4 linked regions of the Homo sapiens genome follow. The protein of the gene in region 4 interacts with the protein of the main gene of each other region in a pairwise test. Each region holds a gene or a part of one and is shown on either strand. Other genes may lie near its edges. The genes, in order: SSMEM1, KASH5, SNAP29 and VAMP4.

Region 1 (6,514 bases), on a different chromosome or scaffold from region 4:
TTCTCCACTTTTGATGTGTAAGTCCTTGGCCTGCCTTTAGCATGAATCCTGTTAGGTCACTTTATCAGGAATACTCCTATGTTTGATGTCTCTCTTTGGTAATTTCCCATCCTGTGATGTCCTCCTCCTGCTCCTGGCTATAAATCCCCACTTGTCCTTGTTGTATTCAGAGTGGAGCTCAATTTCTACTCTCTATTGCAATAGAGTCTTGAATGAAGTCCTCCTGGCCATTTTAACAAGTGTCAGAATAATTTTTCCTTTAACATTTGCCATGCACTTTGTGGATGACAACCGTGGGTAGCCCACTGCCAACTGCCTTCTGGGTCATGCTGCCTCTCCTCCCTACTCCAGGAATCAGATCTTATTCCAGCCTCTTGAGCTCCTCTTCCACACCAGCCCCTAGCTGACATGTGTGGCAATACAGTTCTTGTAGGGTCAAACCTAGAGAGGATGGGGCAATTCTATTCCAACCAACTTCACCTAGTTCATTCAGTCAGTCAGATAAGCAAAACATCTGAATACATTTAAGTGGTTTCTCAACATAAATAATACATTTTCAAAGAGCTTTCTTATTCATATTACAGACATAAACAAAATACATACACTCAAGGCACAAAATATATACACTCAAGGCACAAAATATCTGTCTTGTGCTATTTCAAATAAAAAAATCATAGCAGATATAGATCTTTGGTGTTCCAATGGTGCCATAAACACGTGATGGCCTTTTTTTTTTTGAACGAAGAATTGTGTGAGATTTTACCTCTTGGGTTCCAAGTATGTTTTTGTTTGTTGGTAGAGAGACTTTGTTGTAAAAGTCTCCTCACCTATAGCTCTGGTGATTTTTCATGTTTTATTCATCTCTTTCATTTGGCTTCAAGTGAAGGAAGAACGTGATAAAATTCAAAATTTACTAAATTTCTTGTTAATGTCAGATATGGAACTTTCCTCTTGACTGTCTCTTTTCATTGGCGGTGTTACTGAAGGCTTCTGTCGGGAATGGTGCGCCAACCATTCGTTGGTTCTCAAGGCTTTGCAGTGGAGGCAGTGCCTTTCGCTCATTTGGTAACTTCCCAGATTCCTTTGCCTCTGAGCCATTTTTCTCCTCTTAATACTGTCTGGTGATGGGTGGTGTTCACTTTCACTCTCCTTCCACGAGGAGGCTTCTGAGTTAGACTCTTCACTGCCATACTCCGTAGTATCACTGTCATGTTGGTTCTGGTTCACCTCATTGAACTGAGACTGGCGCCTGGCTCGTCTTTGTTCAGGATAGGCATTGACCAAAGCCACTTCTGAGTTGGTTACAGGGGTAAGTTGGTTCTGCTTTGGTTTCTTCATTGTTTGTGAGGGATCCCAGGCACTGTCTTTGCTTTGCCGCTTACAGGAAGTCTCTTTGCTTGCTAACAACCAATGAAACATATCAAGTTAGTAATATTGTTGGTTACTATGAATTCCTATTACTTAAGAAGCCTGTGCACGTGTGAGCTCACTCTTAGTGGCCAGTTGTCAAGCCATTGCTTTTCTCCAGTCACCTGCAAGTGTTGGCAGCTGACTGCATTTTCTAGTACCATATCCCAACTCCTGCAGACCAGAGAGCTTAGATAGATGCTTGACATATCACCATATCACTTTTGAAGTTTTGTGGATGCTAAACATAAGGTCAAAGGAAAAGATCTCTAAACTTTTCCAGGGAAGAACTCTTTTTTCCCTTTGAAAATTGAAGTCTTACAGATTCAAGCAGGTATATGAATGTGATTTGGGGAGCAGGAACTAAGAAGGATCTTTCCTTTACGTAGTGGTGTGAGGAAGTTGGCTTGTACCTGCTCAGAAGAGCTGATAAACTTTCAGGAATTTTGAGAGATGGTTAAACATAGCCATTATTAAAAATTAAATTATACCAACTTACAATAAATTAAGTTACTAAAAATAGAGGTAATACTCAAAACCCATCACTTCCTAATTATCTTACTACATTTGTTTATGCTATGTGCTCTTCTGGTTTTTTATGTCCGTTGTATTTGGATGCTGGAAACTCTATGCTGTTTTTTTGTTTTGTTTTTTTTTGTTTTTGAGATGGAGTCTCGCTCTGTTGCCCAGGCTAGAGTGCAGTGGCACGATCTCGGCTCACTGCAATGTCTGTCTCCCAGGTTCAAGTGATCCTCCTGCCTCAGCCCCCCAGCAGCTGGGATTATAGGCACGTGCCACCATGCACAGCTAATTTTTTTGTATTTTTAGTAGAGACAGGGTTTTGCCATGTTGGCCAGGCTGGTCTCGAACTCCTGACCTCAGGAGATCCACCCTCCTTGGCCACCCAAAGTGCTGAGATTACAGGCGTGAGCCACCACGCCCGGCGGAAATTCTATGTTAAGGGTGCACTACTGCACATCTCCTCCCAACTCCATGTTCAATGACATGAGGTGGATAGCTTAAAATCAGCTTTGGTGGAAGTATTTATACCACGAAAATCAGCAGACACTAAACATCAGGGCTTGATGTATGGCTTTGTTGATTGTCTAGGCTTAAGAAAATGATGGAGAACATGTTACTAATGCAGATTACATATTACATTTCAGTATCATCCCTGTAGCCACTACATTGTGACTAACCCTGCAAAATGAGGAAATATTCTTCCAGTATTTTAGAACTATTATCCATTCCAGCAAAGAAGTCACTCACATCACTGACAACCAAGTTAAGTTCCAACATACATCTATCTTCTGCTTCATTTTCATCTCACTCCTTAACTTAGAGGAAAATAACATTCACGCTGGAACTATACTTGTTCATCAATTGCAGCCATGGTTGGCTAAGGTGCAAGGGTCTGGCAAAAATGAAGGAGAGCGTTTTGTGAGAATCAGTTGTCTATATGAAATTGGCCATAAGGAGTATTGTATATTTTATTATTTTAAATGGTGTGATATATATTTATTTATTTTTATTTATTTATTTATTAAATTTTTAGAGTCAGGGACTCACTGTGCCGCCCAGGCTGGAGTGTAGTGGCATGATTATGCCTCACTGGCAGCCTCGAACTCCTGGGCTCAAGTGATTCTGTTGCCTCAGCCTCCTGAGTAGCTGAGACCGCAGGTGCGAACAACCATGCCAGCTAATTTTCTTTTTTAAAAAGACAGGGTTTTGCTATGTTCTCCAGGCTGATCTTGAACTCCTGGCCTCAAGCAGTTCTCCTGCTTCAGCCTCTGGAGGTGCTGAGATGACGTGCAACCTTTATATCAGTAAAATTTTTAGTAAGCATATGTACACACAGGAGTTTTGGAGAACCAGTTGTTAAACATTTACCAGTGCACCACTGCTTATAGGTTATTGAAAAAGATGTCATAGACAGTTCATAATCCTGTAATAGCACTAACCATGAGGATGTGGGAAGGGCAAGCAATGTGAAGGGAGAGAGCTAAGGAGTGAAAAAAGAACTTGAGTTCCACCTCCCAGTAATTCATAGCTTCTTGCTAAGCAGCTAAACTGTCCCTCTGCACTAGGGAGTCCAAAGCAAAAACTCACCCAACCCCAATGGGCCTCCTCTAGTGTGCAAAGTCTTACAATGCTGTTGGCTGTTCATCTCTGTTTTTTGCTTTCCACACTCAGCACAAATTTCTTTCTTTGTCTTTATTTCATTTTTCTTTTTTTCTTTTTCTTTTCTTTTCTTTTTTTTTTTTTTTTTTTTTTGGTACTGGGTCTCACTATGTTCTCAAGCTGTGGTCTTGAACTGCTTAGCTCAAGCAATCCTCCTGCCTCAGCCTTCTGAGTAGCTGGGACTACAGGCATGCAACACCACACATATTCTTCCCCTCATAGTCCAACACCAAATATGCACTGGTTCTCACCTTTCCTTACTGAAGTACTTGTCCCACTGCCTTCATCCTTTTTATCCTCAGACATCTGTTTCAGAAACATAGGTTAGTAAGAGTGATCTCAGTTGTTTTTTGATAATATGTACTTGTTATAAAACACTATTGCTGAGGCCCATTTATAATGTCTGGTTTTATTTTTTTATTATTTTATTTATTTATTTTTGGAGAGTCTCACTCTGTTGCCCAGGCTGGAGTGCAGTGGCATGATCTCAGCTCACTGCAACCTCTATCTTCCGGGTTCAAGTGATTCTCCTGCCTCGGCCTCCCAAGTAGCTGGGATTACAGGTGCCCGCTACCACGCCCGGCTAATTTTTGTATTTTTAGTAGAGACAGGGTTTCACCATGTTGGCCAGGCTGGTCTTGAACTCCTGACCTCAAGTGATCTGCCCACCTTGGCCTCCGAAAGTGCTGGGATTACAGGTATGAGCCACTGGGCCTGGCCTGACAATGTCTAATTTTAAACATTCAGTTTAAACAAGTACTTACTGAGTTAAATAATAAGCTAATTCAGTATGTATTGAGTTCCTGTTATAGTGATCCTACTTCCACTTCCCATTAAGACTATGCTTTGATAGCAGCATCTACCAAAATGTTTTGGACCAAACAAAATGGAACAGACTTGAGAGAAAATAACACTGACAAGGAGCTATAGCTTATAAAGCTTTCCTGTACCCATTTACATTACAGAGAAGTAGTGTTTTTAAAAAATTTGATAGTACTCAGATTAGTTTAGTTGTTGTTTTTTTGTTTTGTTTTTTTGTTTTTGTTTTTGTTTTTTTTTTGAGACGGAGTCTTGCTCTGTATGCCCAGGCTAGAGTACAATGGTGCGATCTCAGCTCACTGAAATCTCCGCCTCCCAGGTTCAAGTGATTCTCCCGTCTCAGCCTCCCGAGTAGCTGGGATTACCGACATGCACCACCACGCCCGGCTAATTTTGTATTTTTAGTAGAGACAGGGTTTCTCCATGTTGAAAAGGCTGGTCTCGAACTCCTGATCTCAGGTGATCCACCTGCCTCAGCCTCCCAAAGTGCTGGGATTACGGATGTAAGCCACCGCGCCTGGCCCAGATTAGTTTAGTTCTTAAAGGACACTTGATCAGGGTACATTACTGATAGTTCTTTAAGACAGAAGACATCTACCATACACAAAGATCTTTACCGAATTCATGAACTTAATATCTCCTTAATCCCTCCGAAAGTTTCCTCCAAAATGTAATCATGATATATTATTTGTGAATACAGCAACCAAAAGAAATGGATTTCTTTGAATAGTTTCAATTTCAAATATTCTGCCCCCCAATACTCCATAAATATATTTGTCCCATTTTTCAGATTAGTGTCCCACTTTCTAATGCTGAAAGTGATTTTGCCAAAAGACACAGATATAAACCAACTCTTTCAGAAAATAACAAAAACTAGAAATTTTCATTAACACCTTTGACATATAATTCTCTCTCCAGGAATCTATCAGCAAGAAATAACCCTCAGAAGAAAGAAAGCTTTGTCCACAGAAACATTCATCACAGTATAATTAGGATAATAGAAAATTCAAAAGTAGACAATGGTTTAAGTAAATTATGGTACAATTATATAATAAACAGTTGTAAAATTATTATAATAAAAGTATGTCATAACATGAGGAAATAAGTGTGCTACCATACTGGGTTAAACATCAAGATGCAAATTTGTATATACAGCTTGAGCGACAAATTAGCTTAAAATATGAAAAAAAAGACTTTAAGGAGCATATAAAAGTGATAGCTATGGTTGGCTTTAAGTGGTGAAATGGACTTTTTCTCTTCTAATTTTTTCAAATTGTCTACAATTAGGAAAAAAATGAGTTTATGTGGAAGTCCAGTTTCTTTGGGATGAAAAGTGCCATAGTTCGGTATTTATAACTGCAATCTAAGATCCTCAGCTCATTCTTAATATCTGATCTCTGCAATGGTAGGCAAGCATCTTTAATGAGGTGCCTTTTTGTTTTCTGGGTTACAGCAATCATTCTCCAAAAATCTTGAAAGCGGAGTTCACTTTTAAGATACCACTTTCTGGCCAGACACGGTGGCTCATGCCTGTAATCCCAGCACTTTGGGAGGCTGAGGCGGGCAGATCACAAGGTCAGGAGATCGAGACCATCCTGGCTAACACGGTGAAACCCTGTCTCTACTTAAAATACAAAAAAAATTAGCCGGGTGTGGTGGTGGGTGCCTGTAGTCCCAGCTACTCAGGAGGCTGAGGCAGGAGAATGGTGTGAACCTGAGAGGCGGAGCTTGCAGTGAGCAGAGATTGCACCACTGCACTCCAGCTTGGGTGACAGCGAGACTCTGTCTCAAAAAAAAAAAAAAAAAGATACCACTTTATAAAAAATGCTTTTGGAAGAGGCTTAAATATTTTAAATTTAATATGTATCACTTAGGTTATAGAAAAGGAAAAAAATAAATTTAATATATGTAAAGAAAATCAAAATAATTGGAAGTTTATAAACCTAAAAGTTAACAGTAGTTGGTTATTTCTACATAATCTGGAGTGATTTTTATTTTATTTTGTCTTCTGCCCTATAATTTCCACATTTTCTATATAATGTGTACTTTTGTAATAGACAGGAGAAGGTATTTAAAAACACTTATTAGGCTTATATCATTTCCACAG
Region 2 (7,029 bases), on a different chromosome or scaffold from region 4:
TGGTCTTGACCTTCTGACCTCAGGTAATCCACCCTTCTTGGTCTCCCAAAGTGCTGGGATTACAGGGGTGAGCCACTGCACCGGGCCTGTGCTCCTTTTTCATTTTGGTTGTCTCAGAGATTTCTTTACATTTACTTTGATTGAGGGTCCAAACAAGGTCCATCATTGCTTTTGGTTGAAATGTCTTACTTCTTTTAATCTGACAGTAATTTCTGCCCCCTCCACCCCGACCCTGGTACTCTTCAGGCCCTCATTCTGTGGAAGAAAGCAGGTCCCTTGTCCTGTAGGATTGGTGCGTTCAGATTAGGCTGATTGCGCTCTTGTTCCCTGTGGTTATGTTCACCACTTTCCTCTATCATTATTTCTTATAAACTGGTAGGTAGATCCAGGGCCTTGTCCAGACTGTTGTTCAATTTCTTGGCAAGATTGGGTGGTGCTATACATATCAAATTGTGCCATTCAGGAGTAATGCCAAGTCTGGTTGCCCTATTAATAGTATAATCATTTCCAATTTTATAAAGGAGTAGAGAGGCTAAGAGACTTGGCAAGGTCACATGGTAAATGGACTCAAACCTAAATCTGTGTGATTCCAAATTCTGTTTATAATCCTCAGACTCTCATGTGAGCCAGACACAGCCCTGGGTGAGAATGGGACACAAAGGGAATTAGGCTCTAGAGGTGGCGATGGATGCAGAAGCGGGTAACAATGCACGAGGTGGGCTCTGGTGAGGCCTACAGCCTGGGTACCATGGGAGCACTAACAGGCTTCCTGAGGAGGCGTTGCTGAGTCTTCAAGGCTGAGGGCAGTTAGCTGGGAAAACAATAGGCCGGAGAGGGCAGCCCATGCCAGCCATGAAATGGGACCTGAACATAAAATGGCCCAGATTCCAGTCTAAAGTTTAGGGGCACCAAAAACCTATCAAGTTGCACAGGGTTTCAAAGCGAGGTGGTCACTGGGGAAATGCACTTTGGGGCATGGAGGCAGTCCAGAGTTCCCTTTCACCACGCCCCTCCTCTTGGCACTCCAGGGGATACACCAAGGCCAGCCTCTCCCTCCCTCCAGCCAGCTCCAAGTCCTCCATCAGCTGCTCTCCCTCTGTCTCAGTGGGCCTGGGCTGCCAGGTGAAGGGCAGAGGAAGGACGGGAAAGGAGTGCTGTCTCAACATCTGTCCACCTGGTAGGGATTTGCAGGCCAGATCCTGGGCCACTCGGCAGGGAACCTGGTTACTCAGCTGCTCCTGCCTCCTTCTGCAGTAACCTGAGACAGCTCTGTAGGTTCTCCACAGGAAGGCTGCCTGGATCTTCAGTGTCTGAGTGTCTTGTTACTCCAGCATTATTCTACTGTAACTTGAGAACTCAATCTATAGATGCTCTGTAGGCAGCTGTGTGGAGGGGGAAGGTAGAGGGGAGGGAACCAAGAATAGCTCCAGTTTATCGAGGGCCGAGGGTGTCCCAGATGCTGCTCAAGGCACTCAACCTGGCAGCAGGCCTTCCTGGTGGGGAGGAGGTAGAGATGAGACTGCTGGTTGCTATTTACCCTGCTTACTCCTTCTGCTTTTGTCGAGGGATCTACTCTCTCTGTCTGAGGGCAGATGGGTCCCAGCCCCAGCCATGGGAGTGAGTCAAGGTGGAAATCTTGGCAGATGCAGGAAGCTCAGCTGGTTAGCTAAGCCAGCAGCCATTCTCACCCCTTCTCACTTGTTCACCTGCCACTCTAGAGGCTGAAAAAGGTCACATATTCTCCTGGGCTCCTTTGCAGCTGGGGGCGTTATGTCAGCCAGTTCTGGCCAGTGAGATGTAAGAGCTGCTGGGGGTGGGGTGAGAGGCTTCTGATGAAAGGAGCCACGAGAGGGGCATTTCCTGGCTGCCCCCCCCCTTTTTTTTTATTTTGAGACAGAGTCTTGCTCTGTCGCCCAAGCTGAGTGCAGTGGCACAATCTCGGCTCACTGCAAGCTCCGCCTCCTGGGTTCACGACATTCTCCTGCCTCAGCCTCCAGAGTAGCTGGGACTATAGCGGCCCGCCGCCATGCCCAACTAATTATTTATTTATTTATTTTTTGTATTTTTAGTAGAGACGGGGGTTTCACCATGTTAGCCAGGATAGTCTCGATCTCCTGACCTTGTGATCTGCCCGCCTCGGCCTCCCACAGTGCTGGGATTACAGGTGTGAGCCACCGCGCCCAGCCTCATGGCTCCCCTTTGCCCCACGTTTTCCTACTTTGAATGAGAACATGAGATTGAAGCTGTTGCAGTCATCTGCAATAATGAGGCCACAGGCAGCCAGGGAGCCACCAAACCTCCCAGAGACCACCTTCTTCCCAGAGACCACCTTCTTCCCAGAGACCACCTTCTTCTAAACCTCTGGTTAAGGAAATGAATGTCGTGTAGATTGAAGTCATCATTTCTTTGTTCTCTTCCCTGGAGCGTTCTGGACCCATTAGTGGCCATATTATCCATGTAGTCTGGTTATAATGGCTGAATGGCAATGAACTGTAAGGCAGGAAGTTCTGCCAGGGGGCTTCAGGGAAAGTTTTTCATTTTTAAAAATTTTTTTTGAGACAGAGTCTCGCTCTGTCACCCAGGCTAGAATGCGGTGGCACAATCTCAGCTCGCTGCAACCTCTGCCTCCTGGGTTCAAGTGATTCTCCTGCCTCAGCCTCTCAAGTAGCTGGGATTACAGACGCCTGCCACCACGCCTGGCTAATTTTTATATTTTTAGTAGAGGTGGGGTTTCACCATGTTGGTCAGGCTGGTTTCGAACTCCTGACCTCAAATGATCCACCCATCTCGGCCTCCCAAGATGCTGGGATTACAAGCGTGAGCCACTGTGCCTGGCCTTTCATTCTTTTATTTACTTTTTTTGTTTTTTTTTGTTTTATAGAGACGGGCTCTCACTATGTTGCCTAGGTTGGTCTCGAACTCCTGGCCTAGGCAATCTTGCTTTGGCCTCCCAAAGTGTTGGGATTACAGGTGTGAGCCACCATGCCCAGCCGGAAAGTTTTTCTTTTCCTTTTTTTTTTGAGACTGAGTCTTGCTCTGTCGCCCAGACTGGAGTACACTGGTACCATCTTGGCTCACTGCAACCTCTGCCTCCTGGGTTCAAGCGATTCTCCTGCCTCAGCCTCCCGAGTAGCTGGGATTACAGGTGTGTGCCACCACACCCGGCTGATTTTTTTATTTTTAGTAGAGATGGGGCTTCACCGTGTTGGCCAGGCTGGTCTCGAACTCCTGATCTCAGGTGATCCACCCACCTCGGCCTCCCAAAGTGCTGGGATTACAGGCGTGAGCCACTGCGCCTGGCAACTTTTTCATTCTTAAAAAGGGATGTTCTGAAAGAAACTGTCACATCCTGCTGCATTCCATGTCTCACATGGTACAGCCATCCTGCTGTGAGATTCCCATTGCCCCAAGGGGGTGAGTTTTCATGGAAGAGCCAGAAAATAGCAGAAAGATTTTGGATTTCAGTGTAAAAAACACTGCACATGTAGGACAAAGATATTTTTTGGGAATACATGATCTGTCTGGACTAGGCAGAGATCCTTAGAGCTGGGGGAGGAATGCAGGACAGACAGAGAAGAGAATAGGCTGAAAATGAGCCCAGAGTTTTCCCCTAACCCAGGGCTAGCTATGAGGGGTGGAGGGTATGGATGGAGAACCGCAGAGCCCTGGAAGTCTTGTGATCTGAGAGGCCTTGCGTGTACTTCCCAGAGCACTCTCAGAATCATCACGGTGTGAGAATAATAGAGATGCTACTTTCTTGTGAAAGCAAAGAGGCCTCACTGGTGGGTCCTCTCCAGACCTCTGCCCACCCCAGCCCTGTGTCCTCCAGTCTGTCAAGGCCTGGGTGGGGTTTGGGATCCTTCAGGGAAATGAGTGACGGACAGGGACTTTGCTAACAGCTCAGGGAGAACAGAGGAATCTCTCTCCTGTTTCTCTTTCCCCAGAGAAGCCACATCTCCCCACCATGAGCACCCACCCTGGCCTGGGGAAATGAGGCAGGGGCTTTGGGCAGTGACCCCAGCCTCTTCCCTTTCACAGGAAAGTAGCCAAATCACCTCCCTGGCTCTGGAAGGGTGTGGAAGTGGTGGAGTAAGAGTCCCAGCCCAGATAAGGGATCACCACCAGAAGATGAAGAAGATGGTATGTCCAGAGATCCAAAGGCAATGCGGGCCTCACAGTAGATGCCAGCACACAGTGGTGACAAACGCTTGGACAAAACCCATCAATCTCATGAACAGCAGAGAGGAGAAACATTGAGTGAGGATCAGCAGCCTCCTAGAGCACTAGGCTCCTGCATCAGTCTCCTGCAACTTAGATACCACCTTGAGGTCGGGGGTGGTGACAGGTTTCATTGTCAATTGATGAGTTTGTTTCAATCTAAAAAAAATTAGGTGGGCCCAGAATGAACTAAGATGATGTTTTTCTGTCTTGGATGGAACGGGGCTTGAATTAAATGTGAAGCTGAACTCAGTCTCTTCATATTGTTTGCTAGTCCCTCAGTGAAATGCTGTCAATCCTCAAAACAAGCCTACTGAACAGATACCCTTCTTCCAGTTCTTTGAAAATAAAAGTAGGTCAGGTGTGGTGGCTCATGTCTGTAATCCCAGCATTTTGGGAGGCTGAGGTGGGCAGATCACCTGAGGTCGGGAGTTTGAGACCAGCCTGACCAACATGGAAAAACCCCGTCTCTACTAAAACAAACAAACCAACCAACCAACAAAAAAACAAAATTAGCCAGGTGTGGTGGCACATGCCTGTAATCCCAGCTACTTGGGAGGCTGAGGCAGAAGAATCACTTGAACCGGGAGACGGTGGTTGCCATGAGGTAAGATCGCGCCATTCCACTCCAGCCTGGGCAACAAGAATGAAACTCTGTCTCAAAAAAAAAAAAAAGAAAAAAAAAAAAAAGAAACTAAAAGTAAAGGCTTGAGAAGGAGAAGTCACATGCTTAAAGGTTGCCTATTGTGTAAGTGGCGGAGATGGGATTTGAACTCAAGGTTGACTTCAAATCCAATTTTTTTTTTTTTTTTTTTTTTGAGAGGCTCTCGCTCTGTCATCCAGGCTGGAATGCCATGATGCAATCTTGGCTCACTGCAACCTCTGTCTCCCGGGCTCGTGCAGTCTTTCCACCTCAGCCTCCTGAGTGGCTGGACTACAGGTGCACACTACCATGCCTGGCTTATTTTTCTATTTTTTGTAGAGGCAAGGTTTTGCCATGTTGCCCGGGATGGTCTCGAACTCCTAGGCTAAAGGGGTCCACCCAGCTAGGCCTCCCGAAGTGCTGGGATTCCAGGCATGAGCCACTGTGCCTGGCTGTTTTATTCACTGTAAAAAATACTAATATAGAAACAATGCTAGATAACTTTTAGTGAGCACATCCTATGTGTCCTACCTTGTGCCCAAGACTTTGCAAGTATCCTTCGGTTGAAGTCTCACACAAACCACTGAGGCAGATGCCATTGTTTTGTTCATCTTTATAGGTGAGGCAACTGAGGCACAGAGAAGGGAGGCACTGGTCCACTCTTATGTAGGTGGCCTCAGCCTGAAGCCATGTAGGCTGACCCCATGCCTCACACTCTTGTAAACCACGGCTGTTCTCACAGTGTGATATAACCTCAGGGACATTCCCACACTACTGACATTCTGAGGTCTCCCCAAGACAGGCTGCTGGGGTGTTGGGGGCAGAAGGGAGTGGTGTCAAGAAGACCTTAAGGACTGGGGAAGGGGTGGGGGTGGTGCTGGGCCTCCGCTCACCTCCTCCTGCAGAGTCTCCATCTCAGCCACCAGATGCTGCTGCTCCTTTTCCTGACCAACCCCAGAGAGAGGACAAAGGTTTCATTTCTAGCCTCCTTGCCCCCATGTTGCCCTTCTCCCACCCCTGAAAACACAACCAGGGCCTGGGGGAATGGGTCTGGGAAGCCCTGATGGCTCCTGCTGTCTCCTTTGTCATGAGAAGGATGGCAGGTAAGCTTGAAAAAGTCTAGGGTGAGCAGGGCCTGGAGAGAGGGAGAAAGCCAGGTGACCTCTGCCCCTTCCTACTCCATAGTCACACTCTGCCGCCCTGACTCCAGGAAACAAAGAAGAGAGAGGGCACCTTCCTTCCCCTGGGCCAGACCCACCGCCTGCCGGGCTTGGGCCAGAAGGCTGCGATTCTGTTCCTCCAGGCTCCTGGCCAGAGTCTTCAGGTCCTCCAGCTCCTCATCCATGGCCTTGGCAAACTGCAGGGCCTGCTGGGTGCTGAATGCGGGTGGGGGCAGATGAGCCATACGAGAGGGAGGAAGGCAGAGAAGCACAGAGACAGATCCATTCTGAGAGACACTAGCAACAGAGAGATCCCAGGTGGTAGGCAGGGACAGAGACCCAGAGAGAGGGGAGGACAGAGACCCAGAGAGAAAAGAGGAGAAGGAGACCTGGTGTGGGCACAGAGACCCAGTTTTAACCTAAAAGACTGAGGAAGTGGGAAAGAGACCTAGAGAGAGTGGGGGACTAGAACAGGGAGACCACGATAAACATGAAGAATGACAAAGCACAGAGAGATGAAAGGGCGAGTGACATGAAGAATCAGAGAGTTAAAGAATAAAGAGAGAAATCTAGGCTGGGTGCAGTGGCTCAGGCCTGTACTCCCAGCACTTTGGGAGGATAAGGCGGGAGGATGGCTTGAGCCCAGGAGTTTGAGACCAGCATGGGCAACACAGTGAGAACTCATTTCTATAAAAAATAAAACAAAATTAGCCAAGCAGGGTGGTGGGCCTGTGGTCCCAGCTACTTGGGAAGCTGAGGTGGGAGGCTCGCTAGAGCCCAGAGGCGGAGGGTACAGTGAGCTGTGATCACCCCCACTGCACTCCAGCCTGGGTGACAGAGTGAGAACCTGTCTCAAAAAAAAAAAAAAGAGAGAGAGAGAAGTCTGAACCCTCAAGGGAAAGATAAAAAGACCAAAACAGAGGCTGAGAGATAAGAATCAGAGAGACACAAAAGATAAAAACAGAAAAGGGAAAAGAAAGGACAGGTACAGAGTCAAAGAGCAGGATG
Region 3 (7,029 bases), on a different chromosome or scaffold from region 4:
GTGATCTGCCCACCTCAGCCTCCCAAAGTGCTGGGATTACAGATGTGAGCCACTGCGCCCGGTCCTAACCTTGTTAGGGAGGTTTTGCCTGTAGTTCTTACATCTCATACCTACTGGATTCCTATGTTCCATTCTAAATGGGAAGTCTTGGCTTAGATTTGAGAGGATTGCCTGAGGTTTTAGGGCCCTGGTGAATGGGTCACATGATTGAGGATCTCAAGCCCAAGGAATTCAACTAACAACTATTTAAGGAGACATCTTTGTAAACTGAGAACAAATGAAGTAGGGAATCAATGATTCAAAGTAGGGCATTGTGGCAGAGGATAAACTTGAATCTAGCTTTTAAGGCTGAGGTTTACACAAGAGGAGTGAGAATGAGGGATGTTCTTAGGGAAGACAGGAAAATATGCAAATGCACTGGCCCAGCAACAGAGCTCCTGGGTCCAGAGGAGGGACATGATAGACTGGGTGTGTTAGAGGACAGGGGATGGAGGAGGTAGCTTAGGAGCCCTTGGAGGTCATAGGGAAAGTTCTGGTCTCATAGCGCAGGAGAGGCAAAAATGTAATAGTGGTGAGTTTGATATAGATTGTGATGACATGCCCCGTGCTGCCCCCAAAGGTCTTTCTATGCAGTGGGGACAGTGAGAGCTGAGGCAGAGTGGCACTTCAGGCATATCAGGCTTGGCCAGGCCAGGCATTGCTGTGAGAAGTACAGTGTGGTCATGACTGGGCAGGTGACAGGTGCTCTTGTCAGTGAGACAACATGTTGGAATTTTCCAGGATTGGGTCAGTTCTCAATTATGAGAAGCCCTGGGAGTCAGGGATGACCTACATCTCCACCACACCCAGTGTTCTCCAAGCTGTCTTTGTTTTTGTGTTTTGTTTTGGGGGAGGTTTTTTGAGATGGGGGTCTCACTCTGTCAACCAGGCTAGAGTGCCGTGGTGCAATCTTGGCTCACTGCAGCCTCTGCCTCCAGGTGCAAGTGATCCTCCTGCCACAGCCTCCCAAGTAGCCAAGACTACAGGTGCACGCCACCACACTCGACTAATTTTTGGTATTTTTGGTGGAGATGGGCTTTCGCCATGTTACCCAGGCTAGTCTCGAATTCCTGAGCTCAGATGATCTGCACACCTTGGCCTCCCAGTGCTGGATTACAGGCTCCAAGCTGTCTTTGAATCACTCTAATCACTCTTTCATTCCCTTTGGTGTTGGGATGGGAACAGAGGAGTATGAGCTCTTCCAACCCTCAGTGCACAGTGTGGCTTCCAGCAAATTCCAGCATACCCTGCTAATCACCCAACTTAGGTGCCTGGTTACCCCAGCACTGTGAAACATGCCAACACATGACAGATTTATGTCAAAGATGAGGACTTTACAAATTATATTAGGTTGGGAAGATTATAATTCAGTCCCAGCTTGGCAGGAAAATGGCTTAGTTAAGTCACCTCTAGCAAAGAGAGCTGCCCTTCTCCTACTGTGAAACCTGGCAAGGATTGTTTCTCACAAAGGCTCAGGCCACAGGCTATGACCACAAAAGAACAGAGGAGAAGTAGTGGGAGCAGGGCGGTTTCCCCAGGCCGACCTGGTAGGCGCTTTGTAGAACTACAGGGAGACTTGTAAGCCACTCGTCTCTTTCCCTGTTTAGTAAGCATGATTTCTTCTTTTTTTTTTCCTAAGGTTTAATTTTTATGAAGAGAGATTCCAATCACATGGTTCAAAATTTCAAAACATACAAAAGGGTGTAGTCTTCTCCCACTTCCCTCCCTATCATCCCTCTGCCCCTAAGGCAGCCAGGCACTTTCCCTCCTTCAGTGTTTTGGGGAGATAATGCCGTGGATAAAAATGGGTTTTTTTTTTTAAGTGAAGTATTGTATACATTCTGGTCTGCATGTGCTTAATAGAATGGAGTTTGTTCCACACTAGTATGTAATGAGCTGGGCTTTCTTTTTGGCTGTGTTGTATTCCATTGAACAAATGACTTCTATTTATGCAGCCTGTCCCCTAATGATGAGCATTGAGGTTGTTTACACCTTTTGGTGAGTCTATTTGCATCCTACTTGGACATGGTTTTTGTACACCTTTTCATCACTCCAGTGGAGGAGACTCACCTGCCCAGGACACTCTGCTTCCCCTCTTGTAGCTGAACTTAACTCCACTGAGGTTTTCTGGGGCCCGAGATCTCGGTTCAGGGGAGTCCAGCAACAAACATTAGACCAGGGTTGGAACGGCTGGCACAGTAACATCAATGGAAAGGGACAGAGTTTGAGAGTTCAAACGTGATGCACTCAGCAGCCACCGCCAGCACATCCTCCACACCGTCTCGTGCAGGGGCCCACCCATCTCTGTGTCTTTCCAGCACACAACAGTCACCCACACTGGGCATTCCATTCAGAGGTGGGAGAGAGGAGGACACCCCTCCTGGCCCAGGAGCAGAGGCCATCAAGGTGTCCCCGGAACTTAGAGTAGATACATTGCCAAAAGGTGATATCCTCATTCTCAGGGATTCTGGTCTTGGAGCAGCCCACTCCAAATGAGGGGCCGTACAGACCAAAGTCACCCCTCTGAGGCAGCGTGTGGTGATACTGATGCAGCCAGAGTTCTTAGCAAAAGTTGATGGATGGGGACAAGCAGCTGCTAGATTAAGTAATTCCTCAAATTTGTAAATGTCAGCAGTGGAAGAGGAGCAGTCTCTTACCCATCTCTTGCTCAACTTTCTACCCCCACGCTTCTCAGCACAATGTCCTTAAGCGTTATTGGCGCTCCCAAAATAGTTGCCAAATGAATAAGTGACCTGGGGAAGGAAAGGAAGGAGGGAGGGAACAGAAGATTGCCTGAAAAAGGAGGAGAGAGTTGGGTGGAAAGAATGCATTGAGCTGTGTGCCTTGGTTGCAATGCCTGTCCTGTGACCAGAAAATGCATCCCAACACATGTCAGGCTGTGTCTAGCAGGTGGGAGGGAGTCTGGTGGAGAAATGGCATTGGACCACATACTCACCGCTAGGTCTGTTCGGGATTTATTTTTAATTAATTTTTGGTAAACTATCAATGATTGAATTTGACCATTGATGGCCAGGTGTGGTGGCTCACACCTGTAATCCTAGCACTTGGGGAGGCTGAGGCAGGTGGATCCCTTGAACCCAGGAGTTCAAGATCAGCCTGGGGAATGTGGTAAAACCCTGGCTCTACAAAAAATACAAAAATTACCTGGGCATGGCGGTGCATGCCTGTAGTTCCAGCTACTCAGAAGGCTGAGGTAGGAGGATCTCTTGAACCAGGGAGGTCAAGGCTGCAGTGAGCTGAGGTCATGCCACTGTATTCCAGCCTGGGTGACAAAGTGAGACCCTGTCTCAAAAAAAAAAAAGAATTAGACCATTGATCCCAGGCCAATTTGCTGGCTTGTTGGCTGTAACAGGATGCCTTCTGAGGATGGGCTGGTTGTTCGAGCTTCTGGCTTCTCCTTCCTGGGCACATCCACTCACAGCTGCCACATTGTCCCAAGGAACCTTGCTTTGCTGACCAGGAAACATGCTGTGACAAGCTGAGCGGCCATCTGCTATACAGCTTTCTGCCTCTGAGGTGTTCTTAGAGTGGGAAGTGTTGTAGGGAGGTGTTTGGGGGTTCCCAAGACTACCCTCAACTTCACTGATTCACTGGAAGGATGCACAGAACTGTTACACGTATGGTGATGGTTTCTTACAATGAAAAGATGCTGATTAAAACCATCAAATGAAAAAAGTGCATAGGGCAGCGTCCAGGGGAAACCAGGCACAAGCTTCCAGTTGTCCTCTCCCCATGGAGTCATGTGGACAACACTTCTCCAAGCAGTGCGTGACAACACACACAGAGTATTGTCAACCAAGGACCCTCACTTAAGCCTGGGTGTCCAGAGTTTTTTGGGGAGTCTGTCACATAGGCATGGCTGAGTATAGTCTCCAACCCCACCAGAGGTCAAGCTGATAACGTGTAGCCCAAGGCCACCATCATATATCACATTGTTAGCATAGTCTGTCTGACCTGGTCTAAGCTTAGGCTCACTTGAGCAAGGACACTCTTATCAGGCAGGATATTCCAAAAACAAGGAACCAGGCTAGGGCCACACCTCTCTTTGGAATGTGGAGTGTATGGACAACCCAGAGCTGCTGAGCTAGCCTTTTGCTCAGCCCCAGGTTGGCCTGCACACAGACGGCGAGGGGCACCAGCACTACCGCCTTTGCCCTTGGTGGTTTTTCCTGCACCCTAAGACCCGATTTGTCTCTGAATCCACCCCATACTCCAGCTGCCACAGTCAGAGCCCCGGGTTTGAGCATCTGCCATGGGTGCTCACGTATCCCTGCCAAGGCTTGTGCCTGTGCACACTCCCTTGGGAAGGGAGAGATGGAACAAAGATAAATTTCAGATTTCTAGATTCAGCTCACTGACTCCAGATTGGCCTCCGTCTACTTATGATGAACCTCATTTATCAGAACCTGAGTTTACGAGCTCAGTATGAGAAACACAGTATTGATGCCCTTCCGTCAGGAACCTGGGGAGGTCTCGGTCACGGAAGCCCACCTGATGTTATAAGATGTGTTGGCTGCGAGTTGCAGTTGAGATCTGTTGGTCACTGCTGCCCTTTGAAGGCCTTAGTGACATCCTGTGGGTGTTCCCTGCCGAGTCCTGTGGGTAGCCCCGCTCACTCCCCACACGGTTCCTCTGCCCCTGCACAAGCTGCACCCTCTGCCTGGTGCCCTTGCCCCACCCCAACTCTTCGTTGTGATTTGTTTTTAGGAAAACTAAGTCCAAATGGACAGGACCCCCAACTTTCTGACTGCCTAACTTCTCAGTCTCTCCTCCAGCCTCAACAGGGAGCCTCTCTGACCCCCACCTTAAGCTAAACAAAGAGTCTGCAGGGAGAGGTGACTCTGTGTGTGTATGTGTTTGTGTGCACGCGTGCAGTAGCTTTAGTTTCTGCCTCCCCCACAGGACTGTAAGCTCAGTGAAGCAAGGACTCATCTGCCTTTCTTGGATTCCGAGCATTGCAATGTTGTCAACAAATGAAAAGCTGAGATTGAACCTCACTCATCTTGCTCTCTGTTAGACTGTAAACACCATCAGGACAGAGACTTGGGATTGTTTCGTGGACAAAGAGAGAACTCTTGTTGGGGTTCAAGGGAGTAAGAAGGGCATCACCTGTAATGCTTAGTAATCACTGAAACAAGGAAGCACTTTGCATGTGCGTCCTTTACACTGAGGGCACCTGCGGAGCTCACTCCCCTAGCAGCCACCCAAGTCCGTTCAGGGACCTCATTCTCCCACGGGAAGTTGGAGAAGATGGGCCGTGGCTCTGCGGAGGGGGGTGTGGACCTGCCTCGGTACCTGGAGCGGTTGAGGCCTGTCTTGGTGGTGGCTGGGGCACAGGTGTCTGCCTGGCCTGTCCTTACAGACTGTCAGTGTTCTCTTTCCTGGTATTTTGGTGTTTGCTCTGTCAAACCCTTCTTCCTCATTGGTTGGAACTAGGTCACAAGCACATTAAGTCCGGTCATTTCCTCTGCCTTCTGGGGGTGGATTTTAGCAGAAGAAACAACTCCTCCCTTGCTGGCCTCATGACCTCTGGTGAACACTAGCTTTCAGCAAACAGAAACTTCCAGAGGCCAGAGCAGCACTCAGTCGCCTGGCCTTCCAGCCTCACAGGCAAGATAAGCCACCCTCACAGACTTCTCTGTGCTCCCATCTAAACATCTAAATCAGCCATCTGGTTTCCTTAACAGTAGCACAGACTCTGGGAGTTTGAGAGAATGTGTCTCTTGTGAATAAGAGAAAATAAGTCCATACTGGGGAAGGTAGCTCTCCAAATTGAGATGAGGAGGTCAGGGTGGGAGGGTGAGTGGTCGTGGGTTGGCCCTGATGGGAGGAGCTCACCATCAGGGAAGCTGAGGACCTCCCTCCTAATGTGACAGCAGAGTCTTGGCCACCTCTTCATTCCCCAGTCCCCAACCTGGCTGCTCTGAGTGTCTTTCCAGCTACTGGAAAGCTTCTTCTGCAGCCTGCAAAGCTAGCTGGAACTGGACTGTCAGAAAAACATGTAGATGCTGGAGAAAATCTGTTAATCCTAACGTATAGCTCTGCCTTATTCCAGAGAAGACCGCAGTGTGGACATGAAGATGATAAACTTGAGGTGATGGAAGGAGCAGAAATGCCAGATACATTAGCAGCTCTTTTTTCTTTTGAAAACTAGCCCTTGCAAGATTTGCTTGACATACTGAGTGACACTATCCAGAAAACATCTTTTTTTTACTTAAAAAAGGCTGATGGTTTGTTCAGACATCTCTTGTGAACTAGTGAAAAACATAAACGTTGAAAGCTGTAAAATTCAGCAGTTCTAAGTTTATTTCCAGCAAGAGTTAAACAAAGTTTAATAGTAAATTCAACCAACCAGTGTTTTAGCTTTTTGCCTATACATTATGTTTTTAAATTTCACCCATTAAACAAGGACTCAGGTTACACATTGATTCCTTAAGGACTTTAAGGAAGCCACAACCATTTATTTATAGTTGCATTTTGCTCTTCAGGTTTCCAGGATGTTTAAAATTTTTTTTGACTTTGTTTTTAGGCATCAAGAGAGAATATATCTAAAAAACATTTGCATAGTTAGTGTAATTGCTAAGCCACAGGGTGATGGGTGGATAGATTCAGAGGAAGGCAGCTGAGGGCAGAGGCTGCCTGACAGAGCAGGAAAAATGAAGCTCGAGAGCCTTCTGGCTGGAAAGGCAGCTCACAGATGGGCCGCAGCTGTAGATCAGTTCTGAACTAGGGACTGAAGCAAGTTTGTCGTAAATAAAGGAAAGTGGTAGTGTTGATGTTGTGAATGTATATCCACAACCAGAACCATCAGCTCTGGAGGGACCATCAGGCTGCCACTGTGGCCACAGAGCATCACTCACGTCTCCATTGGGCAGATTTGCAGAGACTCAGCAGTGAACAGAGCAAGTCCCTGCCTCGTGGAGCTCATATGCTGTGAGCGGTGGCTCATGCCTGTAATCCCAGCACTTT
Region 4 (7,029 bases):
ACTATATTTCTGCAAATATTGACAGAATGGTTATGCATCTCTTTCAGCATATAATTTGGTACTCTACACAGGCTTCCTGACCCCCAGCATGACCCGCTCCCTAATGCAATAATGCAAGTCCTTATGCCATTAAAATATTAATATGAAATATTATAATCAGTGTTTATATACACAAATAATGAACTGGCAAGTATCTAGTTTCAAATTAGATCCTTGAAATATGGAAAAATAGAGGCTAGTTCTCTTTGCCTTAAACATAATTATTAAAAGAACATTTTGTTAGAAAGGGAGAAGATAATTGGACATTCTCAACGTTCCAATTTGAAGTGATACTTGCCTCTTAGTTTCTTGAAAAAGAAGTTTTGAAAGTTATATACACATAGGTTTCATTTAAATTATGCAGCAATCTTTTATTACTGTCCCAGATCTTGTTTAATGAAGATCTCTGTCATCAAATCAAGTACGGTATTTCATGACTATAAGAACTGTAAGAGAAAACATGAAAAAAGCAATATATCAACATCAGATATATATGCTATGTTTGAAGCAATATTCCTAAATGTAGTTGTGTCTACTTTTAGAAATGGGTAATGAGGATTGACTGAACTTTTATCTGAGGTAATAAATAATCAATGGGAAAGGAGAAGCAAAAAATATCATAAAACAACCTAAATGTCTAACATTGGCATCTTAAATAAATAATGGCATAGCCATAGCTTGTATCTGCTGTTAAAATATTACTAAAAATTTTGATAACCTGGGATAATAGTCACAATATATTTATTAGAAAGTACATATAATATAGTCTTAGTTTTTTAAAAAACATGCTTGTATATTAATAGGAAAAGAGAAGTATATATAATAGTTATATTAGTAGCTATCTCTACTAATTGTAAGATTATAGTTGAATTTTTCTTCTTTTTGTTATTAATATTTCACATTTTCCAATTGCTCACTATATATACATGATTGATTCTTGGTTTCTGAGGTAATTATTTTCTATAAGGTCACTACAAACACTAAATTAGTGAATATGGAACCACTGCTTCTAGGGAAAATATAGGGTTAAGTTCCTGTGAGTCTCTGGCTACTACATTTTTGTCAATCAATGCATAACCTTGGTTTATATGTGTTTCTGTTTAAAGACACTTTATTTAATATGTATTATTGATTCAGTAACACTGTGCTCAAGGCCAACAGCACTATAATTCATGCCTGAACAAAAGTTTGCCTAATGTGTATTTTTTCCATGAAGACACATCACAGCTCTCTTGTACTGAGCAACACTAGACAGCACTTCAGCACCACGTGTGGGGACCATTTTAAACAGTGAAATCACCAACAAAAAGCACAACAATGCAGAAAATGTGGTACTAAATAGACTACAAAAAGAATGTTTATGTTATGAGTGCTGAAATAAAAAGGCAGAAATGGCTTTGTTTAACCTCAGCTAGGGATGTGTGGGTTGGGGGACTTACAATTTTTTGTTACTCTGAAAATGTCTGTAAATGACTGTGAAAGCACCATGAGTACTGATTTTGGGGTTACAAATAAATTTTACCTGGTAACTGGATTTGCAAACACGGAATCTATGAATAATGAGGACTGACTGTATTTCTTTGTAACAAAACATTTTTTTCTGTTTAAAAATATAACAGCATAATATAATTTTTCAAATGATTATTTTTAGATACTTTCCAAAGCGTCATAAAACCTCTCTGTAAACATAGGCAGAGGCCTTGAAGAAAAAGAGATATTTAAAATGATCTGATTTTTAAAAGAACATTAAGGGAAAAAGGACGGGAAGGAGTCATGCTTTAATGATGGAAATTATGCTCAACTACAGAACAAAACAAAAACCAAACAAAAAAAAATCATCTGGAGAACGTATTTGGATTTATACTTCCAAAACAATATTACAAAATGCAAACTGCCATTCCTGAGAGTTAATAATAAATAGAAAATGAGTATTTTAGACCTTAGTGTAATAGGAACCAGATTTGGCCTTGAACAAATCACTTAGCCCTGGATTTGGGGGTGAGGGTTGGGGGCAGAACAGGAGTTCCCTTTGAGAATCTGACAAAAGATATAGACCCTCTCTCCATAAAAATGTACATATACATATTCACATAAAATTTTACATATTACTTAAGAGCATTTTCAGAGATCAATAGATTCTAAGAGCTCCTGAGACAGGTCAGAAGTCATTATTCAATCCTGACTTCAGACATACTAGGTCAACTGAAAATAAAAGGGAATTAAAATGAACTCCAAAATAAATGATACCCTAGGAAGTAATAATCCAATAAATACTTACTGATAATCACTAGCAAAAGGATAGCAGCAACCAAAGCCATGATGGCTTTTATCTACAACACACAAAAGGGCATATATATTAATATTTGACTTGTTAATAAAGTCAAGACTATTTGTTGTTCTATTTACTGCATCATACTAAATCATCTCATCACCTTAAGGTTTCTTAACTACAAAACTGACACAGAATGCTCTTAGGCAAAGTTGCTTATTACATGAGGCTATTCATAAAGAATCTAAAATATATTCCTCAAAATGGAGATAAAAATGCAAAGAAGAAAGTAAGGGGAGAAAAAACTAACAGAATTCTCATATACTTTGAAAAAAAGTGCTATAAACTGCTACCTTCGATGTATTGAACCATTTGAATTGCATGGCCTATGTTATTCATCATATCTTGACACTTGAACAGAGTTGCTAAAATACTGTACATTTTCTCTGGTCTCACATTAGTAATAAGCCCATCAAATCATAGAGGTTCAGTTTATATGATAAAGTACTTTAAGCCTTTTTTATTAATCTGAAGCATTTCTAAAACAATTTGGAATTTCTACGGTAGTTTTTCAACTTTACCTGAAATGTACATTAATTTGCCCTGTTAAACGTGTGTTTGGCTTTACTTAAGAAGATTTGAATGAAAACATCAATATCAATTTTAAAACACCTCAATGAATAGAGTTTTCTTCCTTGGGTTTCTAACACTGGGCAGAAAATGTTTACAGCTCCAAATGGCAGTATTGTATTCATGCAAGTCCAAAGCTCTCTTATTCCAAATAACATGAACAAAAATCTGTTTGTCATTAAACATATAAGAGTTTCACAGCCCCCAGATATATTAAGAGAGGTGTTAGCGATTCTCTTTCCCCACCTATGGATAATTTTATTAACTCATTTATTTTTAAAGCCAGGTATATTGAGATACACTTTACAAAGAATAAAACTTATCCTCTTAAAATACTTTTGATAGGTTTTGACAAATATATCCAGCTGTTAATAAACATGACCACAATCAAATATAGGACATTTCCACCAACACCCTTAACAAGTTTCCTCATGACCTGTTGTGAGTCTCCAACTGCACGACATCCCCCTTAGCCACTGGCAACTCCTGATCTGCGTTCTGCCCTTATATCCTTTTTCTTAAAACCCTTCTGAAATTACCATTATGGAAGTCAATCTAGAAAATGGCAGGCACAGGGAGGCTGCCCCAGATGAACAGTAGCACAATGAAGTATTAATGGGGCACAGTAAAACTGAAGGAAGCTAAGCATTAGAAAATAATAAATGAAGAATACTCGCTACTGTAAATGGTGTTTGTTACATTATGGAACAATGATTTTCATTACATGGTCGATGCTATTCATGGTCCCCAGAGGTTCTCAAGGTGATGACTATTTAAAAATATGACTCAATGTTTTTCCTCCTTAAAAGCACGCTATTCCTCTGACCCAAACCCCATAAAGTACAAAGCAAACATTTTTAGCAATGGTTAAAAAAAAAGCTAGGCAAAATGTACATTATGACCATCTTTTTGTGGATACATGAATAGGGTACATGAGTTTGGGAGAGAGAAGGGGTGAGTGGCTCATGGACTTTTTGTTTTTCTAAATTAGCCCACAGAATAGAAAATTTCTATAGATATAGAAGCTTTAGGCAAAGTGTGGTGGCTCATGCCTGTAATCCAGCACTTTGGGAGGCTGAGGTGGGCAGATTGCTCGAGGCCAGAAGTTCAAGACCAGCCTGGCCAACATAGTGAAACCCCGTCTCTACTAAAAATACAAAAATTAGCCAGGTGTGGTGGTGCATGCCTGTAATTCCAGCTACTCGGGAGACTAAGGCAGGAGAATCGCTTGAACCTGGGCTACTTAGGAGGCTGAGGCATGAGAATCACTTGAACCTAGGAGGCAGAGGTTGCAGTGAGCCAAGATTGTGCCACTGCACTCCAGCCTCAGAGACACAGCAAGAGTGCCACAAAAAAAAAAAAAAAAAGACTTTAAAGAAAATAAATTTATTCTTTAAAGAATAAATAACTTAAAATAGAATAGAAAATTTAAATTCTGAACAAGGGGAGAAATGAAACATATTTCTTCCCTCAGTTCCACTTCTGAAAGTAGGACGATTCAATAGGTAGACAAATAAAAATAAATAAATCCAAGGTAACTCTTGGAAAAAATCCTCAGCATATGGCTAAGTCAGGTTTAGAAAGTTATTGCTGGCTGGTGCAGTGGCTCATGCCTGTAATCCCAGCACTTTGGGAGGCCAAGGCAGGTGGATCACCTGAGGTCAGGAGTTCAAGACCAGCCTGACCAACATGGAGAAACCCCGTCTCTACTAAAAAAAAAAAAAACAAAAAAAACAAAATTAGCTGGGCATGGTGGCACATGTCTGTAATTCCAGCTACTCAGGAGGCTGAGGCAGAAGAATCGCTTGAACCCTGGAGGCAGAGGTTGCGGTGATATTGTGGTGAGCCGAGATCAGCCTGGACAACAAGAGCAAAACTCTATCTCAAAGAAAAAAAAAAAAAAAAAAAGGAGAGTTATTGCTAAACTTGAAATTGAAAATGAGAGACTAAAAACAGTGAGTTCATGTCTAAATTTTAAACAAAGCCAAAAATTATAACTAGAATCAGGAGAAAAAAAAAAAAGATTTGCTCATATAACGTGAAAAACATTTTCTGTTAATGATTAGTAGCCACAGTGGATTTAAGAAGTAAATGTATTTCTATACAATGTTTTGCAGGAGTATATATTAGTATGTAGTGATTCCAATGTTTACCTTGTTAAAAATGGTAAAAATTTCTTTTACTTTTTATTTTTCTGGAATAATGAGGGAAGTGGAGTTTTTTCTTAACTCCATTTGTCTTAACAGATTCGGATATGTAAGCTTTTATTTTTTACCCTTTCAACCGAAAGTCATATTTTTCTCTAGCTCCTACTTTTGATATCTCTACATAATGCTATAGAGGTTGCTCCAAAAAAGTATTAATAGTAAATTTCAAGAAAAAATGTATATTTGTTTTAAGTTAATAAGTTTAGAGGTAGTCAAATATTAATAAAATGTGGATTACTTTCATTAAAAAAATCTATGAAAACATCCTTTTAGGCATACTGATTTATTTAGTTATCCCTATCCCAAAAGCAATTAAGTTAACAAGTATTTACTGAATTTCTACCATGTCTCAGGACAGTTATAGGCCCTGTTCTCACAGAGGTTATGCTCTAGAGGCCCTTTTTTCTTCATGTGTTTGAATACCACTTCAGATGCTGACCAGTCTATCCAGTAGCTTCTGATTTACTTACTTTGCATCCACGCCACCACATTTGCCTTCGAAGTTGTTTGGATCTGTTGCTAAAAGCTGTTGCATTATCCGATAAGCTTTCTATATCACATAGAGGATGGAGAGAAGGATTAAACGACATAACAGGATTCTTTTATCTAGTCACACAAAGATAAGAAAATATTAATTTCTACTTCTGCAAATTTATTCCCTTTTAAGCATGAAAACAGCATTCTCCCTTTTTTCCACCCACAAACTCTGGCATTCTACATTATTAAAAAAATGAAAACAAAAAGCAAAAAACAGCTTGCAGATCAGTTTGCTCACTTCTTTTTTATTATAAAATTAAGAAAAGTCTTTTTAGGGCCTTAATGCTTATAAATAAACTTAGGAAATCTAGTAAGAAAAATACTCTTTAAAAATTCAAATACTTGGCACACCTCTAGAAAAAAAATTACATGTTGAGAAGTTAGCTTCTTAGAAGATATCAAAAGTGACTGATTTTAAAGGAAAACAATATACATTTTAAATGTGACTAAGCGAGGTGTTTTTTTTTTTTCTAAAGTCTGTCAAAGATTAATCAGGTATTCAGCCATTCACCAAACAATATTTGAGTGGCAAGTACGTGCCAGGTATAGGTATAGGTATAGGTATAGGTTATAGGTGTAATGACTGAAAGTAAAGAAAGGTGACTAAGTTACCAAATAAAACATAAAATAAAAATAGCAGATAAGTTTGAAACAAGTGTTGAAAAGTGAGTAGGTCTTTAGGCCCTGAGATCATGAGAAACACAAAGTTCATCAATATCACAGGGCAAAAGAAAAAACAGCTCTACTCTTCACTCTTCAACAATGAAATTTTAAATTCTTCATTCTCCACTGAACAATTAAAAAATAATGAAACAATAAGATGACTCAAAGTAAAGGAGTTAAAATTAAACCATTAAAATCATATACTTAAGAACCAAATGCCAATTTCCTAAGCCAAGATTTGTAAACGTTGGCTAGACAAGTAGAAGACAAAAACTAGCAAACAGATTAGTAATATCAAGAAATACATGAAGATCTGTACCTGATTTGTCCTGTAGTTCATCTAGTCTCTCCCCTCTCTCAATTACCTTTGTAATATTTTCTTGCATGACATCAATAACTTCATCCACTTGATTCTGAACACTAGTTTAAAAAAGATACACAATTATTTATCCTTCTTTTGAGAATGCTTACAATTTTTAAAACTTTCATTAGACATAATAAAGAATAGCAAATTCTCAGAGAATTATTCAACTATAAAATTTAAATTTAAGACTTTGTAGCAATGTTCTTCCATTTGTGGGCTTCAGTACTCAGATAATGAAAGACAATATGATATAAATTAAAGTAATATTTAAAGATAGCTTACTTTTAGCCCTGCTTCTGACTTGTAACTCATAAGCAAGT

The links.
Region 1: the proteins of VAMP4 (region 4) and SSMEM1 interact in binary tests that used the Homo sapiens proteins (3 or more experiments, as listed by UniProt).
Region 2: the proteins of VAMP4 (region 4) and KASH5 interact in binary tests that used the Homo sapiens proteins (3 or more experiments, as listed by UniProt).
Region 3: the proteins of VAMP4 (region 4) and SNAP29 interact in binary tests that used the Homo sapiens proteins (3 or more experiments, as listed by UniProt).

What each region holds. Positions count from the first base shown.
Region 1 is NC_000007.14:130,210,860-130,217,373, reverse strand, and holds the end of SSMEM1 (serine-rich single-pass membrane protein 1), read right to left. Parts: intron 3,895-6,514; coding exon 3,840-3,894; intron 1,401-3,839; coding exon 904-1,400; 3' UTR 530-903; downstream 1-529.
Region 2 is NC_000019.10:49,398,233-49,405,261, reverse strand, and holds part of KASH5 (protein KASH5), read right to left. Parts: intron 6,238-7,029; coding exon 6,120-6,237; intron 5,806-6,119; coding exon 5,755-5,805; intron 1-5,754. UniProt on the Homo sapiens protein: As a component of the LINC (LInker of Nucleoskeleton and Cytoskeleton) complex, involved in the connection between the nuclear lamina and the cytoskeleton.
Region 3 is NC_000022.11:20,862,006-20,869,034, forward strand, and holds part of SNAP29 (synaptosomal-associated protein 29), read left to right. Parts: intron 1-7,029. UniProt on the Homo sapiens protein: SNAREs, soluble N-ethylmaleimide-sensitive factor-attachment protein receptors, are essential proteins for fusion of cellular membranes.
Region 4 is NC_000001.11:171,704,050-171,711,078, forward strand, and holds part of VAMP4 (vesicle-associated membrane protein 4), read right to left. Parts: intron 6,766-7,029; coding exon 6,665-6,765; intron 5,752-6,664; coding exon of another isoform or gene 5,696-5,751; coding exon 5,616-5,695; intron 2,370-5,615; coding exon 2,318-2,369; intron 486-2,317; coding exon 457-485; 3' UTR 1-456. UniProt on the Homo sapiens protein: Involved in the pathway that functions to remove an inhibitor (probably synaptotagmin-4) of calcium-triggered exocytosis during the maturation of secretory granules.